Linked DNA regions of Homo sapiens: regions 1, 2 and 3 are each reported to be linked to region 4. Evidence: microRNA targets listed by miRTarBase, many of them from high-throughput screens and not tested one by one. Region 4 holds a microRNA gene; each other region holds the end of a gene's coding sequence.

Region 1 (4,000 bases), not on the chromosome of region 4:
AACCTGTGGCTATGTTACCATAGTTGGCAAAAGGGCCCTTCAGATGGAGAGATGATCCTGGATTATCCGGGTGGGCCCAGACTAATCACACAAGTTCTCAGCAGCAGCAGAGAACCTTTCCTTGGGTCAGAAAGAGATGTGATGATGGAAGAAGGGTCAGATACGATGCTGCTGGCACTGAAGGTGGAGGAAGGGGCCACAAGCCAAGGAACAGGGGCAACCTCTAGAAACCAGAAAGGGCAAGGAAATGGCTTCTCCCCGGAGCCTTTAGAAGAGAACACAGCCCTGTCAACACCTTGATTTTAGCCCAGTGAGACCCATGTCAGACTTCTGACTATGGAACTGTAAGATAAGAAATTTGTCTTTTAAGCAGCTACTTTTGTGGTGATTTGTTATGGCAGCAATAGAAAACCAATGCACTCTCATGTGCTTTTACACACCCTATGGTCTGAGAGCCTCTGCCCCATAAATCCACTCAACTACGTGGGTTTCACATGCCATGTGGCCTTTAACCAATAACCTCCTCATTCTGGCTGCCGTTACCACCTGCCTGATTCCCTAGTTCAAATTCTGAAGAGAGAATGGACGAACAGATGAATACACAAGTCTGACTGGCCTAGCTCAATGCTTTTCACTCCAGGACAATCCATAGGATTGGCTGTACTAGGAGCAGATGCCAGTCCTCCTTTGTACCAGACTCCCAAGACAAAGTACATGGCTGTATAGGAGAGAGAGGTCAGAGAAGACCTGGCGGAAAAGGCTGTGGGGTTGAGACCTAAGGATGGGCATGGGTTTGCCAGGACATGAAGGGTGCAGGGAGAATTCCAGGCACTTAAGAGAGCAGGCCCTTTGGGGGCAGGCAGGAAGCAGCATGGTATTGCTGGACTAAAACCTGTGGCAGGGGCAGGGGCTGCCCAGGGGAGGCAACCAAGTCTCTGAGGGTTTTGTCTGCCAGGCTGAGGGGCTGCCCTTCCTGTGTGGGCTGGAAAGCCAGGGAGAGGTGAAGACTGGCAGTGCTTTGGAGGCCGACTGGAGAGCTCTGAAGCTGGGCAATAGGAGACACTTGTCCCCACTTCCTTGGCTCTGAATTCCCTGAAGCCAAAGTCTGGATTGACTTCAAGGCTTGGCTGGAAAAAGCAGGAAAAGGGAGAAAGGAAGGAGAGAAGGTTCCAGAGGAGGAAAGGAAGCGTTGATGCACAGAAGACACAATTGGGCCAGGAATTTTTATTGTGAGAACGTTCTTTTGAAAAGGATCCTTTTTTCAAAGGCCTCTTGTGTTTGGCAGCCCTTAGAAAGCAAATTCTGAGAATTATTTTAGCCTGATTAAGCTCGCTGGTATCTCAAAATACTGAAATTATAAATACGTAATTACAAACAATGCCAAACTGCAAAATATGCATAAGAAAAGTCCCACAAAGTTGTGATTTTGCTACTTTTTCAATTCCAAATTCTTTCCCTAGGAAGTTTGATGCTGAGCCTGGCCTGTCTGTGGTGGGGAAGGAGGCCTGGGCCACAGCCACTGGACCTGTCTCTGGGATCTGGACCTGATGCCCAGCGAGTAGCCCGCAGGTTGCGTCCCCCACTGGAACACCCCTGGGAACCTGGGTGGGAGCGGCAGGTACAGGGGCCAGTGCAGAGTCAGGGCTTGGCCCATCAGGCCTGGGCCAGCACAGTGAGGCACATTCATTCATACACAGGAGTTGGATTTGCATTCTGAAAAGGTAGCACACATGACAGACCCGTGGGCAACCTGGCAGTGGCTGGGAAACCTGGCAGTGGCCATGCCACAGAGGGAGACCCAGGCTGCAGCTGCTGAAAGGGACTCACGCCCCTCCCAGCTGTGCCAACTGAGGCCCCTCAGGCTGCTGTGTACCAGTTAGTTAAGACACTGGAAGGCCAGGTGTGGTGGCTCACGCCTGTAACCCCCAGCATTTGGGAGGCCAAGGTGGGAGGATCACGAGGTCAAGAGATCGAGACCATCCTGCCAACATGGTGAAACCCCATCTCTACTAAAAATATAAAAATTAGCTGGGTGTGGTGGCACACGCCTGTAGTCCCAGCTACTCGAGAGGCTGAGGCAGGAGAATCACTTGAACCCAGGAGGCAGAGGTTGCAGTGAGCTGAGATCGTGCCACCGCACTCCAGCCTGGTTGACAGAGCAAGACTCTGTCTCAAAAAAAAAAACAAAAAAACTGAAGTAGGAAGATTTCTGTTCTATATCAATCAGGACTTTCTTTGTAAACGAGGTGCGTTCCTTTTGTTCTGTGGAGACCCAGGAGTAATATCACCAGAGTGAGGGTGATGAGGTTAGTAGGGATGCTCGCAGTCTGAGAAATGAACGGACTGCTTTGCATCAGTCCCTTCCCCTTCCCTGATTTTAAAAATTTAATTTTAAGGAGAAAATACTTCAGCATGAGACTTCAGTTCCTGAGGAAAATAACACTATTGCTCCATCCTTAGTATTCACTTAAACAAATGTTTAGCTAAAATTTTATTAAAAACTTTCAGCCCACCCGGACACGGAAGACTTTGCTTTTACAGCAGCTAAGGTATGTTTTCATTACCCCGTGAGTGATGCTAATGCATTGCAAATAGTTATTATGAGTTTATGTAGTGCTTGGTGCCTAAAATAAATTTCATTTAAATATTTAAAATAACTCCTGAATATAAGCAATTTATTCTGATTACTGATAAAATAACATTCACATTCAAGCCTACAAATCTGAGAAATCATTATTCCATATGCACAGAAGGCCACAGTCAGTAGTCTAATAGTACTGCTTACCAGTGTAGTGTAAACTTCTTTCAGAATCAGGGAACAATTCTAGATCAGCCATGGTGAGAAATAAGTGCTCTTCTCTTAGGCCAGCGACACTTCCGATGGGTCTTGACATCCCACCTATGGGCTGGTGTGTGAAACTCTCATCTCTACGTCCCTCCCCAGTTTTAAGAGTCACCATGTCACATAAAAGCTCCAGCATCAGCCAGGCACGGTGGCTCATGCCTATAATCCCAACACTTTGGGTGGCCAAGGCAGGTGGATCACGAGGTCAGGAGTTCAAGACCAGCCTGGCCAACATAGCGAAACCTTGTCTCTACTTAAATATACAAAAATTAGCCAGGCGTGGTGGTGCATGCCTGTAATCCCAGCTACTCGGGAGGCTGAGACAGAGAATTGCTTGAACCTGGGAGGTGGAGGTTGCAGTAAGCCAAGATCGTGCCACTGCACTCTAGCCTGGATGACAGAGAGATTCTGTCTCAAAAGAAAGAAAAAAAAAAGGCTGGGCGTGGTGGCTCACACCTGTAATCCCAGCACTTTGGGAGTCTGAGGCAGGCGGATCACGAGGTCAGAAGATCGAGACCATCCTGGCTAACACGGTGAAACCTCGTCTCTACTAAAAAATACAAAAAATTAGTTGGGCAAGGTGGTGGCGCCTGTAGTCCCAGCTACTCGGGAGGCTGAGGCAGGAGAATGGCGTGAACCCAGGAGGCGGAGCTTGCAGTGAGCCAAGATCGCACCACTGCACCCCAGCCTGGGAAGCGGAGCTTGCGGTGAGCCGAGATGGCGCCACTGCACCCCAGCCTGGGCGACAGAGTGAGACTCCATCTCAAAAAAGAAAAAAAAAAAAAATGCTGCAGCAGCCTACACAAGGCCCTGCTGATCTTCCGGGGTGTTATGTGGCCCATCTATCAGCACCCTGTTAGTATGCTTTTCGATAGGTCTAAGACTCACCCACTTTATTCAAGCCTACTGTGGCAGGTGCCTTTGTCAAACTTGAGCCTAACCATCCCACTGGCCAGGGTCCTGCTCATCACTGTCCTCCTCAGAGTCAGCAGACACCCTCTTGATTCTCTGGAGCGCAGCCTTGATGCTCCTCTCAAGGTCACTGGTGCGTCTGTTGCTGGTTGGTTTGCTGCTGGGGTTTGGGCCAAGATCAGGGTGAACTTTCTTCAGTTTGACCCCTTGCCTTATGGCAGCCAGAATGTGCTCATTGATTGA
Region 2 (4,000 bases), not on the chromosome of region 4:
GGGGAGAATGGGCCTCTTCCACGAGGAGCCTGGCATGGCCCCTGGGGTTACAAGGTGCCATGTCTGCCTCTCCCTGGGTTGGTGGCAAGCTTCGTTTTTATTGGCCCTGCCTCCCGGGTATTCTGCCCAGCAGCCAAGCTTTGAGGCTGACTTTAGCCTTTAGGTGCTTCCAATAAGGAATGCCTCCAAGAGGCATTCTTAGGCCCATGGCAAAAAGTGGTATGGGCTAAGGTGGCCTCTGCATCACGGGTAGGCTGTAGGGGATGAGCATAAAAAGCAGCTGAGGCAGGCAGCCAGCTACCATGGGAAGACAGAGATGGCTGGTCTCCCAGGCCCAGGTTAATCACTGGGGGGCCACTTACTACCATGGCAAGGGCTGTGACGACAGCAGGTGAGCACAGGGTTTGCCTTTCTCCCCGCAGGGGTCTTCACGGCTCCTTATGATGGGCGCTACCTGATCACGGCCACCCTCACCCCCGAGAGAGACGCCTACGTGGAAGCAGTGCTGTCGGTCTCCAACGCCAGCGTGGCCCAGCTGCATACCGCTGGGTACAGGAGAGAGTTCCTGGAATACCACCGCCCTCCAGGAGCTTTGCATACCTGCGGGGGCCCGGGGGCATTCCACCTCATCGTGCACCTGAAGGCGGGAGATGCAGTCAACGTCGTGGTGACTGGGGGCAAGCTGGCTCACACAGACTTTGATGAAATGTACTCCACATTTAGTGGGGTTTTCTTATATCCTTTCCTTTCCCACCTCTAAGGTGGCTGGGGAGATGTCAGGGGAAAGATAGATAGTTGTAAAAACTCTAAAGCTTTAATATATTCGGTTTGTATGTAATGGAAGCACGGGGCTAGAGTTTCCACATAGGCCCCAACATAAAGGCCTTCCCTCGCTGTTGAGGCCACCATGCCTTACTGCATCCAGCCAGGCTGCAGGGAGTGAGGCACACGGTGAACATGGCCACTGACTTTTCTGCCACTCTAACTGGACAACTGGAAGACTTGGAAAGGCCTCCACCTGTATCTACACTCTGAGGGCCCTGGACTGGGCCTGAGCTTGCCACAGAGGCTCCGTCTGACTGTGGGCTGGGAGGAGGGAGGCAGGGGAGAGCCGGTCACGGTGGCTGGTCTTTACTGCAGGGCAGCACTGTGGCCAGCTGTCTGTCTTTACACTGCATGCAGAAGTTTAAACACTGAAGTGCCGAAGTGGCCCGTGCCGCCGCACAGAGACCCCGACTTTAGTTTGGGCTGTTCCACGCTTGGCTCACCATTGCCGCCTGGGACTTAACCTGCTCAGGCGGGCCTTCGCCCAGCTGCAAATAGGGATGCGTTAGAGACTGTTCCCAAAGCTTGTTGGGCTCCTTAAATGGCATGTACAATTTAAGTGCAAAGACAGGGAGTGTCAATAAAGATGGAAAGCCATTTCCAGTTAACTTTTGTTAATTTAAGTGTGGTCCCTTACAGATCGGGAGTTGTTGCTAAAAAGCAAACTGAAGAAATGTTTTGTTTCAAAAAGGGCTACAGAAAGTAACCTTGAGTAAAATTAATCTCAGCTACAAAACTGTTACCCCTCCGCATCCAAGCTATACACTTGGGTTTTGTTTCTGGCTTGTGAAGACGGACCAGATGTGCACGGAGGTCAAGGCCCCATGTCATCTGCAGCTGGAGCGGCTCCTCTGGGGATGCTGCACTCAGATCCCACAGCAGCTGCCCAGGCTAACTTGATCCCTGCTGCTTCACTGCACCAATCTCCAGCAGACACAGCTCGCCGAGCTCTTGGGTTTCTAAGCAGCAGGAAGCTCAACCTAACGCTGGCCACACGCTGACAGCTGAGCCCATCTGAGAACACGGCATCTTCACACAGCGAGACGCCTCCACTGAGGGGAGGCCCGGGAGTATCAATCTGTCACCAGTGGCCACGGAGACCTCTCAGCACCCTTAGTTCAAGGTAGTCTCTGTGGATCAGGTTGGTAACACCTACTGGTTAATCAAGTCCCACTGGGGAAAGGTTTGGACGGTAGAATCAAGAGCTGCAGTTTCCTTGGCCCACAAGATGCTCTTATGCTGTAAAAAAAATGCTTTAAGAATTGTTTGCAAATGAATTTACAGGGTGGCCACTGGACACTTCAGAGTTCCTTATTTACTCCCCCCGCCACAGCTAGGAAGACCAGCAAGAACTAAAGGTTTGCCGTTTTACTATTTAAAATGTGGACCTCTTTGTCCAGGAGCGGGAGGGAGAATGGCATCTCACCCCATTACAACAGCTGGGGAACTGGCTAAAGAGAGCTGTCAGAGAGTATCCTTGGCTGTCCTAGGAATGACTCATGGAAAGCGCCCCAGTGCAGCAGTGTTTTCAGGAAAACCCAGTGGGCACGCGCCATCGCCCTCTCCTCTCCTCTCACGCTCCTTTTGAAAAGACCGCACTCGGCGCCCAAGGGGACGTGCTCAAGAGCTGCAGGGGCAGGGCCCAGGCAAAAGGTGGGTGATGACTACCTGCTGCTTTCCCTACTCCGTAGATGGGTCTGGAACATCGGGTAAAACCCAGTCCTCCTCTCAGTGCATCTCTACTCACCAACAATGGTGAATCTCAGCTCTGTGTATTCAAGACAGGCAAAACAGAATATGCCTCATTATGGCTGGAGCGTGCCTCTACTTTGAGATAAAGCTGGATGACAGGTGGATCCTGGCCCACTTAGGAGACATCTTTAGAAAGGGAAAGGCTGTCTTTTTGTACAGGTAGTAGAACAACAAGGTCAGCTGAGCTTAAGGCTGTGGGGTTCGAAGCAGCCCTTCAAGAAGTCATCACCCCTGAAGTAGTGCCTGCGAGTCAGTCAGAGGCATACCAAACCCTGAGACAGAATCAGGCACAAGTTCACAACTTTTTTTTTTTTTTGGGGGGAGACAGTCCTACTCTGTCGCCCAGGCTGGAGTGCAGTAGCGCGATCTCAGCTCACTGCAACCTCCGCCTCCCGGGTTCAAGCAATTCTCCTACCTCAGCCTCCCGAGTAGCGGGGACTACAGGTGCATGCCGCCACGCCCGGTTAATTTTTTGTATTTTAGTAGAGATGGGGTTTCACCGTGTTGCCCAGGCTGGTCGCGAACTCCTGAGCTCAGCCAATCCGCCCACCTCGGCCTCCCAAAGTGCTGGGATTACAGGTATGAGCCACCACGCCCAGCCAAGTTCACAACTTCTGATATCAAGTTGTTGCTGAGAAAAGGTCAGGACACTTCTTAAGTAGAGAAGGACTGTGACATCCCCTCCAAACCTCCATGTAACACTAACAAATGGCCTCATTTACACGATTAAAAACAAAATGGTATCGTCAATAAATGCAAACCTTAAACTGCATTTGAAATTACTTCCTGGTTGGCATGTTAATCTAGCTTTCCCAGGTGACTAATTTTCTCACAGTTTATGTATTTGCAGCTTGACAGGGAGTATTTGTGATTGGAGTCACTTCGTTCATGCCTGTAAGCTTGGAAACCCAGCTTTGCACATATCCAATCCACACCACAGCCCCTTTCTAAAGATAAATGTGTATTTTCCTTATGCCATCCTATAAACGGGAAAGAAAATGGAAGGACACATGCCAACTCCAATGGGTGCGGGGCAAAACAGAGAGAAGCCACACGCAGGCACGTCCTCAGAGCTCAGGTATGCAAAGTTCACTGCTCCCCTGAAGCCCTCAAAGCTGCTCTGGGTAAAGACCATTTCCTTTGTAACCAATTTCCCTGAGCTCTTCTTTTGCATTCCCAAAGACCCATGGTTGCCATCACGTCATGCAAACAAACATTTCCATCCTGAACACACGCTCCTGTGGAGGGCCTTTGGGATGCAGGGTTCAGCATATGCTGCATCTGGTAAGGGCCCAGCAATCTGAGAGGACAAAACATCACCATGTAAGTAATATATGCGATGTGGTTTTGATCAAAGGTCACTCTGACTCTGTGATGAAAACATCAGGATTGACTGCTAAATCATACCCACCCTAAGGAAGGG
Region 3 (4,000 bases), not on the chromosome of region 4:
GACTCCATGGCATGGAGGTTCACAGCATAGGCTCTGAAAACCAAACAACTCATTCCTTAAACAACCTCAGACAGGTTATATAACTTCTCAGAGCTTCAAGCATCCTTACCTGTATAATGGCAATATTAATAGGATCTATTATGAGAAGTAACTGAGTTCATTCATGTAAAAGACTTAGTGCAAAGTATATAATAAAAATTAACGTTTGAGTATTAAGATTCAAGTCATTTTCATCCTCATCCTAGTGCTTGGAGATTGATTCTTCTATTTCCAATTCTTTAGCGCTCAAGGACGCTTTATAGTCGGGCCTTATCTCTAGAGCTAGATGATTCATATTCATTTCATGGCTTCTTTCAGAAAGTGCAGGTGGTGGTAACTGTTTTGGACTATGACAAGATTGGCAAGAACGATGCCATCGGCAAAGTCTTTGTGGGCTACAACAGCACCGGCGCGGAGCTGCGACACTGGTCAGACATGCTGGCCAACCCCAGGCGACCTATTGCCCAGTGGCACACCCTGCAGGTAGAGGAGGAAGTTGATGCCATGCTGGCCGTCAAGAAGTAAAGGAAAGAAGAAGCCTTTCTGCATTTGCCCATATAGTGCTCTTTAGCCAGTATCTGTAAATACCTCAGTAATATGGGTCCTTTCATTTTTCCAGCCATGCATTCCTAACACAATTCAGTGGTACTTGGAATCCTGTTTTAATTTGCACAAATTTAAATGTAGAGAGCCCCTAAGTCCTTCATCATACCACTGCCCTCCAAATCTACTCTTCTTTTAAGCAATATGATGTGTAGATAGAGCATGAATGAAATTATTTATTGTATCACACTGTTGTATATACCAGTATGCTAAAGATTTATTTCTAGTTTGTGTATTTGTATGTTGTAAGCGTTTCCTAATCTGTGTATATCTAGATGTTTTTAATAAGATGTTCTATTTTAAACTATGTAAATTGACTGAGATATAGGAGAGCTGATAATATATTATACGGTAAATATAGTATCGTCTGCATTCCAGCAAAAATATCAACTCGTAAGGCACTAGTACAGTTAAACTGACATCTTAAAGGACAACTTAAACCTGAGCTTTCTATTGAATCATTTGAGTACCAAGATAAACTTACACCACATACTTGGTGGGTGAATCCAATTTTGTAGAATTCCTACACAGGCAAAATAGCATGATCTGAGCAGCAGCATCCAGGCTGACCTCAAGGAAGCATAGCCACAAAACAGAATAGCACCTGTCTGTACATATTTACAAAGCTAAAATAATGGCTTCACTCTTATATTTGAGGAAGCAACTGAACAGGAGTCAATGATTTCATATTACTGCATATAGAATAACAACAAGGTGTTCCGTGTGTGTGTGTGTGTGTGTGTGTGTGTGTGTGTGCACATTTGTTTGGGGATGGGGGAGAAGAAGCTAAGGGGAGAAGTCAACATTTATGAAATATTGCCTGACTATTTAAAAAGAAAAAAGTAGCTCTCCATTATCACCTTTATACAAAATGTACATCCTGTGAATTCTGTTCCAGATTTCACACCTACAATAATTCCAAAAGGTTTGCACATTAGAGTTTGTAACAAAATATTTTATTATATAAAACCAGGTTAGAAGGAATGCAGGATATTTTTAACACAACAATCTGTGCTTATTACACAAAATTACTTTGTGGTAAACAGACAGTATTGTAATCCCATCAAAAGATGAAAGAAAAACAAAAACAAAAACCAACAACAATTAGCCATAGTTCTGAATGCACTTCAATTAAGCCAAAACAGACAGCTAGTGATCTTTTTATATGCTCTTTTTACTTAAGTTTTAATTTGTCCTTTAAAAAAAGGTGAAACAAACCAAGAACAAGTTCTAGAAAACTGAAGCAACCTCTTATGTATACTAGATGCTTGATTTAGGAGGAGTTTTTAAACGTTTTCAATGTTATTATGTAGTAAATGACACTATTATGAAGCTACTAGTCATTCCATAAGAGTCTTAAAGGACTGCTCTGTGTAACACTGTGACTGCCGTGTGTGCTTAGACCCGTAGTTTCCTCAGTGGATAGCACTCAATTTATTCCGTAGTGATATTGTAACAATACTGCCATTCCCTTCTACTGCACTGCCCAAGGTGTGTGTAGCACAAACAGTTCTCATTACAAAGGACCAATTCAGAACTGAAAAGCTATGCATAGGACAAGGAAGATACATAGAATGGGGTGGAACACAGCATTTTGTCAAGCACTGTGCAATATTCCATATTTTTCCCCACTATGGTAGACAACCATTTCGTGGAAGGGCAGCCTATTATCCCACACTGCATCTAGCCTTTTGTCCCATTCACTTCTGTGATCCATTTTAATTTCCAGGCCACAAGACAGTAGTGATGCTCTGAAATGAAAGTTTGTCTTCACAAATATCAAAACAAAATGGAGGAAAACTAAGCATTGGCCTCATGTTCAGTCTTCAGGATATCACACCACGTCTTTTCAAAAACTAAAGAGAATTCAAAAAGGGCTGATGGTAGGCTTTGAACATGGGGTTGGCTGTTTCCCAGTAAAACTGGAATTCCTGTCGTTACTGTTTCCTTATCAAAGAAGGGGCAAGCTCTTTTGCCTTTTAGGCCAGACATAGCAAACGCTTTATAATTGGCATAGACATAAAGGATAAAAGGAAAATAACCGTCTGCCGATGGTCCGTACTTCTTAAAAAACATAGGTAATAGAAAATATACACAAGTCAGAATGTGAAATTAAATAATGGTTTGAACAGAAAATTCAAACAAGACTCTTTCCAATTTAAAGGGCCAAACCCTACCAAAGAGAGGGAGTTGACTGGCTTTTAAAAAGTATTTAAATACCACAAATGACATTTAATTTCACTGTATTCAGCTTTAAGTTGTTCACAATGAAACCACACTTTCAAACAAGCAGGTTCAAGCTGCTGAATAGACATTATTTCTTGCATTAAAATACCACTAATGCATTCTCTTGCAACACTGCCAGACATGGGATTGTCACCATAGAATTAGTTGGTACTATGCCATCTTTCACTCTTTCACAAGTCAGTGATGGAACCTGCTTTATGACCAAGATTCATCCTCAAATAAGCCACATGTACCCTTCTGACAAAGCTGTGTAAAGTATTAGAATCTGATGCTCTAGAAAGATCCTAGTTGCCTTTGTGTATATTTACTGCCTGCTTGAGTGTTTCTATGTGTGGGTTTTCCCTGTATCTTGTAGAAATGTTGGGGTGTTTTCCTCTGCCATATGGCTCGTGGCCTGCGAGCCAACTATTTCAGCTGTATTTTACCTTCATTTTTGATGAGGTGATTTAAATTTTGTTTCACTTTGTGTAGTGAATTCCACAGTAGTTTTCTGATTGTTGTTAAAAATGACTTAACATATTACACAGATATTCAATAAAAATGTTTTATTTCCTGTTGATGTTGCTGCGTTCCCACTCTTTTCCTTGCCTGACTCTGGTGGTAAGCCAATGGCCTATTGACTTTGGGGGACTCCTGGAAGCAGCAGCAGCTAAACAAAACTGCACTGAATGCCAGCATCTGAGTCACATCTGAGTACAGAATAGCTAGAGGGAAAACAACACCCGGGAGCATTTGGCCATGACCGCGTGGTGTTCCTGGGCAGTGTCATTCTCAACATGTGTTTCTCTATTCCTGTGTGTCATCAGTTCATCTGGCGTACTCTGAGGCTTTTCACTTTGCCCAGCATGTGTCCTTCAGGGTTTTCACTCCAGAACCCAAGTCACACAGCTTCTCCAGAATGGGACGGAAAACAAAACTATTTAAACCCCAGTTTCAGAGGACAGTATGACACATTAAATTCTATGCCTACTACGATCGCTATGGGAAACAAGTAAATACTTTTCCTCCACTAAATTTAACATTTATCAAGTGCCTACTGTACTGGACGCTGAAGCCCACAGTTTCAGGCTGATGTAAATACGCTATCCCAATGCACTGTGATGTGGGCTTA
Region 4 (4,149 bases):
CCCCAACCCCCAGCAAGAAAAATGGGCTTAGAGAATAGGATAGACCTGGGTATTCAAATCCCAGCTCTGTCTAAGTGACCTTAGGCAAGCACTTAACCTCTAATACTAATAATAGAAACTCTAATACTCTAATAGTAACTCTAATACTAATAATAGAGGTAATCATAGTAACTGTCTCATATGGTGGTTATGAGGATTCAGTGGGATCGTTAGCATGGTAACTGGCGAAGCACTCAATAAACATTCAAACAGTGGTAGTAATAACAGTAATAACAACAGCAATATTATCTGATCTCTCTGGGCCTCTGTTAGCCAGCTGTAAATTCGATCTTTTTCCCTGTCCCTTCCAACTTTACTGAGTTCTTTTAAAAACCAGACCACAGGCTTAGAAATGCCTTGACCTTTACTGACCAAGTTGTATATTGAGCCTAACCCTAGCCCTTTTAAGGGGCACTGTGTGGAACGGCCCAGGCTCCCCAGATCGAAACTTCTCACTCTTCACCATACAGTCCTCGAGCCGCTGTGAAGCAGTCCTCAAGCGGCAGTTATGGCAGTCCATAAAGGCTCGGGCACAGCTGGAAGCACACGTGACACAGGTGAAGCTTTGTAGAGGGAGGGATGTGGGAGGAAGATGACGCCAGGTGGCCAGGAGCAGGTGAGGACCAGTGACAGCCTTTCCTAACTTCTGTGCCCATTCTTGCAGATGTTGGAACAAGTCCAGCTAGAGACAGATGAATATACTCAACATCTAAAAGGAGAGAGGGCCCGGTGGCAGCAGAGGGTATGGAAAATGTCAGAGGAGGTGAGACCTGACCCTTAAGCCCCCCACTTTAGATAGGTCACTGGATCTTTCTGGCCATCTGTAAAATGGGAATAGTACAGCCAGAGGTGGTCATGGGTCTGGGCTTTGTAGAGGTGGAGGCAGAGAGGGAGTTGGTAGCCTGTCCAACCACCAGCCCCTCTCTCCAGGGCCCTGTCCCCCGTGCTTTGGGCAGGTTTGCACATGGAAGGAGGAGAAGAAGCATGACAGGCATCGGGTACAGGAGCTGGAGAGGAGCTTGGCCGAACTCAAAAACTAGATGGGTAAGATGGGGCTGGCATGGCCTGGGAGCAGGACTGGCATCAGAGGGCTGTGGGGATGGCTTAGAATGCCCCAGGGAGGTGGGTAGATGGAAGGGCTTTGAGGCAGAGGGAAAGAGGTCTGTGCCAGGAGACGGCAAGTCTTATAATCTCCATGAACCTCAGTGTCGCCATCAACAAAGAGGGAGGAGTGCTCATTGTCAGCCACCCACAGTGCTCTCTATCTGAAAGTGGCTTGGAAGATTGGCTACCATCCGAGAGCGAGGAATCGTTAGCAGTGAGGCCAAGTTTGGGGAGCCTGAGAGGATCTGTGCACCAAGAGAAGGGCTTTTATTTGTTGTTTTGTTTTGTTTTGTTTTGTTAACCCAGAGGCCCTTGTTGTCTGCTTCCTTTCTCAGCTGAACCCCTGCCCCTGGAGCCCCCAGCAGGGCCCTCTGAGGTGGAACAGCAGCTACAAGCTGAGGCCGAGCACCCGAGGAAGGAGCAGGAGAGTCTGGCAGGACAGCTCCAAGCTCAGGTGCAAAACAATCAAGGCTTGAGTCACCTGAACTGGGAGCAGGAGGAGAGGCTGCTGGAACGGGAGACGCTGCGGGAGCAGGAGAGGCTGCAGGAGCTGGAGGAGAAGCTGCAGGAGTAGGAGAGGCTGGGAGAGCGGGAGGAGAGTCTGCGGGAGCGGGAGGAGAGTCTGCGGGAGCGGGAGGAGAGGCTACGGGAGTGGGAGGAGAGGCTGCGGAGCAGGAGGACAGGCTGCTCGAGCTGGGGCGGAAAGCCAAGCTCTGGGAGGAGCAGGCAGAGACGTGCATGCAGGCCCTGCGGAACCACACCACCATCAACCACGTGCTCTCTCAGAACCATGAGCTCGACTAGCAGCTGGCTGGGCCACAGAGCGGCTTAGAGGAGCTGGTGCGTTGCCCCGCCTCGTGAGCCTGCCCTCCTCCCTTGCCCTCCAGGCCTTTGATTCCCCACCTGTAAGATGGGGCAGTGTAGCCCTCACGTGAAATGGTACTTCTAAAGGCACCTGTGAGCCAGAGCCCTGCTCTGATGGCTGTGGGAGAGAGGGGATAATTTTTCTAACCTGCCTCCACCCTTCCTGGTGCCATGGGAGGCAGACACCAAGTTCTGGGGTCTCCAGCTGCAGTGGGTGGCCACTGATTGCTTCTCTCTGTCCAGAACAACGAGAATAAGAGTGCACTACAGTTGGAGCAGCAAGTAAAGGAGCTGCAGGAGAAGCTGGGCAAGCTGAAGGAGACTGTAACCTCTGCCCATCCAAGAAGGGCTGGGAGGTGAGCACCAGCCTCTGGGGAGGGGAGGTGTGAGGCCAAAAGCAGCTCCAGCCCGGGGGCAGGTGACCCCAGCTCCCTCCAGGGCAGTCCTGTGACTGTTTCTTGCTTCCTGCCCTCTGACTTTTAGAGGTGGGTAGCCCTGGGCTCCTCCCAGGTGTGGACATCATCATCCCAGCTAGAGGCATGGAGCCCCCCAATCACAGGGGAGGAGTCGTGGTATAAGAGGCTCCTTATGTCAGGCATGGTGGCTCACGCCTGTAATCCCAGCACTTTGGGAGGCTGAGGCAGGAGAATCACTTGGGGTCTGGAGTTTGAGACCAGTCTGGATAACATGGCAAAACCTCATCTCTACCAATATCACACACACACACACACACACACACACACACACACACACACACACACACACACACACTAGCCGGGCATGGTGGCGCATGCCTGTAATCCCAACTACTCAGGAAGTTGAGGCATGAGAATCGCTTGAGCCTGGGAGGTGGAGGTTGCAGTGAGCTGACATTGCACCACTGCACTCTAGTCTGGGCCACAGAGTGACACTCTGTCGCAAAACGAAACAAAACAAAACAAAAACAAAAAAGTCTCCTTAGATTCAAACTAGATTCCAGCCTCAGTTCCACTGGTCGCCATTCAACCACTTTGCATCTCTAAGTCTCTGTTCCTTTAACTTCAAAAGGAAGTTAGCATTTTCCTTGCAGAGGTGCTGAGGATTAAATGAGATAATACATGGAAAGTATTAGTCATATAGCACACTTAGCAGATGGTGGTTGGCTCCCTCTGCTTTTCCACCAGCCTGTGGCCTACAGTTTAAATGGTGGGAAGAAAGGTGTAAGATTTGAGGCTGGGGAAGAAGGCATGGGGTTCTAGGAAAGGGAGGCAGTCACTTAGGCCTGGAGCAAGGGGCCAGGGGCCTGGGCGGGCAACAGAGCCCCACAGTGCCCTCAATACCCTATTAATGGGCCCAGAATCTGGAAGCCAGCCACCATGTGCCCTCATGCCCAGGGTCTTCCTGCAGGTGAAGCTGAAGAGCCAAGAGGCTCAGAGTCTGCAGCAGCAGGGACACCAGTCCCTGGGTCACCTGCAGCAGTACGTGGCTGCCTATCAGCAGCTGACCTCTGAGAAGGAGGCGCAGCACAGGCAGTTACTGCTGCAGACCCAGCTCATGGACCAGCTGCAGCAGCAGGAAGCTTGGGGCAAAGTGGTGGCAGAGATGGCCCACCAAAAGTTGCAGGAGACCCAGGGGAGGGAATTGCTGAGGACGGGGCCTTGAGGGGGATGACCTGGCAACCTCCGTGCCTTCTCACTCTCTTTCCTGGCCCCTTAGGAGCACCTGGAAGGTACCAGCCAGCAGAACCAGCAGCTACAGGCCCAGTTGAGCCTCATGGCACTCCCTAGGCAAGGTACAGGAGATCTCTCAGAGGAGGAGGAGAGAGCCCCAGAAGGAAAGGGGGACTGTTAGCAGCGTAGGATTGAGGAGTTGGAAGAGACCTTTAGAACAGCTGGTCATTATGCTGACCGGGTGTCTGCACTAAGTTTGGCATCAATATGGTGACCTCCTGGGCTAGGGGGCCAACAGGTTGCCTAAGGATGGGTGAACTGGCCCAGGTCAGAAAGGGAGTAGGTCAGAACTCCTGCACCGACTGGTAGTGGGACTGTGCCTGGGCAATATAGCAAGATCTTGGTTCTTGAAAGTAAAGATAAAGAACAGCAGCTCATTCCCCTCTGGGGAGGGGCTGGCTCAGGGTTACACAGTGAGGATGAAGGCAGAGGT

The links. Region 4 holds the annotated microRNA hsa-miR-7162-3p (UCUGAGGUGGAACAGCAGC, at 1,514-1,532, shown strand). A microRNA usually pairs through its seed, bases 2 to 8, with sites in the 3' UTR of a target mRNA and lowers its output. Matches are read on the target gene's strand: a 7mer-m8 pairs with bases 2 to 8, a 7mer-A1 pairs with bases 2 to 7 and ends in A, and an 8mer does both.
Region 1: miRTarBase lists WHAMM as a target of hsa-miR-7162-3p. Seed matches in the 3' UTR shown: 7mer-A1 at 3,325-3,331.
Region 2: miRTarBase lists EMILIN2 as a target of hsa-miR-7162-3p. Seed matches in the 3' UTR shown: 7mer-m8 at 2,991-2,997.
Region 3: the mRNA of SYT1 is a reported target of hsa-miR-7162-3p. Seed matches in the 3' UTR shown: 7mer-m8 at 626-632.

The regions. Positions count from the first base shown.
Region 1 is chr15:82,833,318-82,837,317 of GRCh38, reverse strand. It overlaps WHAMM (WASP homolog associated with actin, golgi membranes and microtubules), which reads right to left. Exons shown (of 10, transcript NM_001080435.3): 10 at 1,210-4,000. The coding sequence ends at 3,782. It also overlaps a transcript of HOMER2 not described here. Among named protein-coding and RNA genes, the nearest start is that of WHAMM, 26 kb to the right of the region's middle. RefSeq lists an enhancer at 3,833-4,000.
Region 2 is chr18:2,912,645-2,916,644 of GRCh38, forward strand. EMILIN2 (elastin microfibril interfacer 2) reads left to right here. Exons shown (of 8, transcript NM_032048.3): 8 at 423-3,359. The coding sequence ends at 760. Among named protein-coding and RNA genes, the nearest start is that of LPIN2-AS2, 52 kb to the right of the region's middle.
Region 3 is chr12:79,448,561-79,452,560 of GRCh38, forward strand. SYT1 (synaptotagmin 1) reads left to right here. Exons shown (of 11, transcript NM_005639.3): 11 at 358-3,448. The coding sequence ends at 564. Among named protein-coding and RNA genes, the nearest start is that of MIR1252, 31 kb to the left of the region's middle.
Region 4 is chr10:30,365,980-30,370,128 of GRCh38, reverse strand. MIR7162 (microRNA 7162) reads left to right here and starts at 1,464; the gene lies at 1,464-1,532. It also overlaps the pseudogene GOLGA2P6 and the pseudogene RN7SL241P.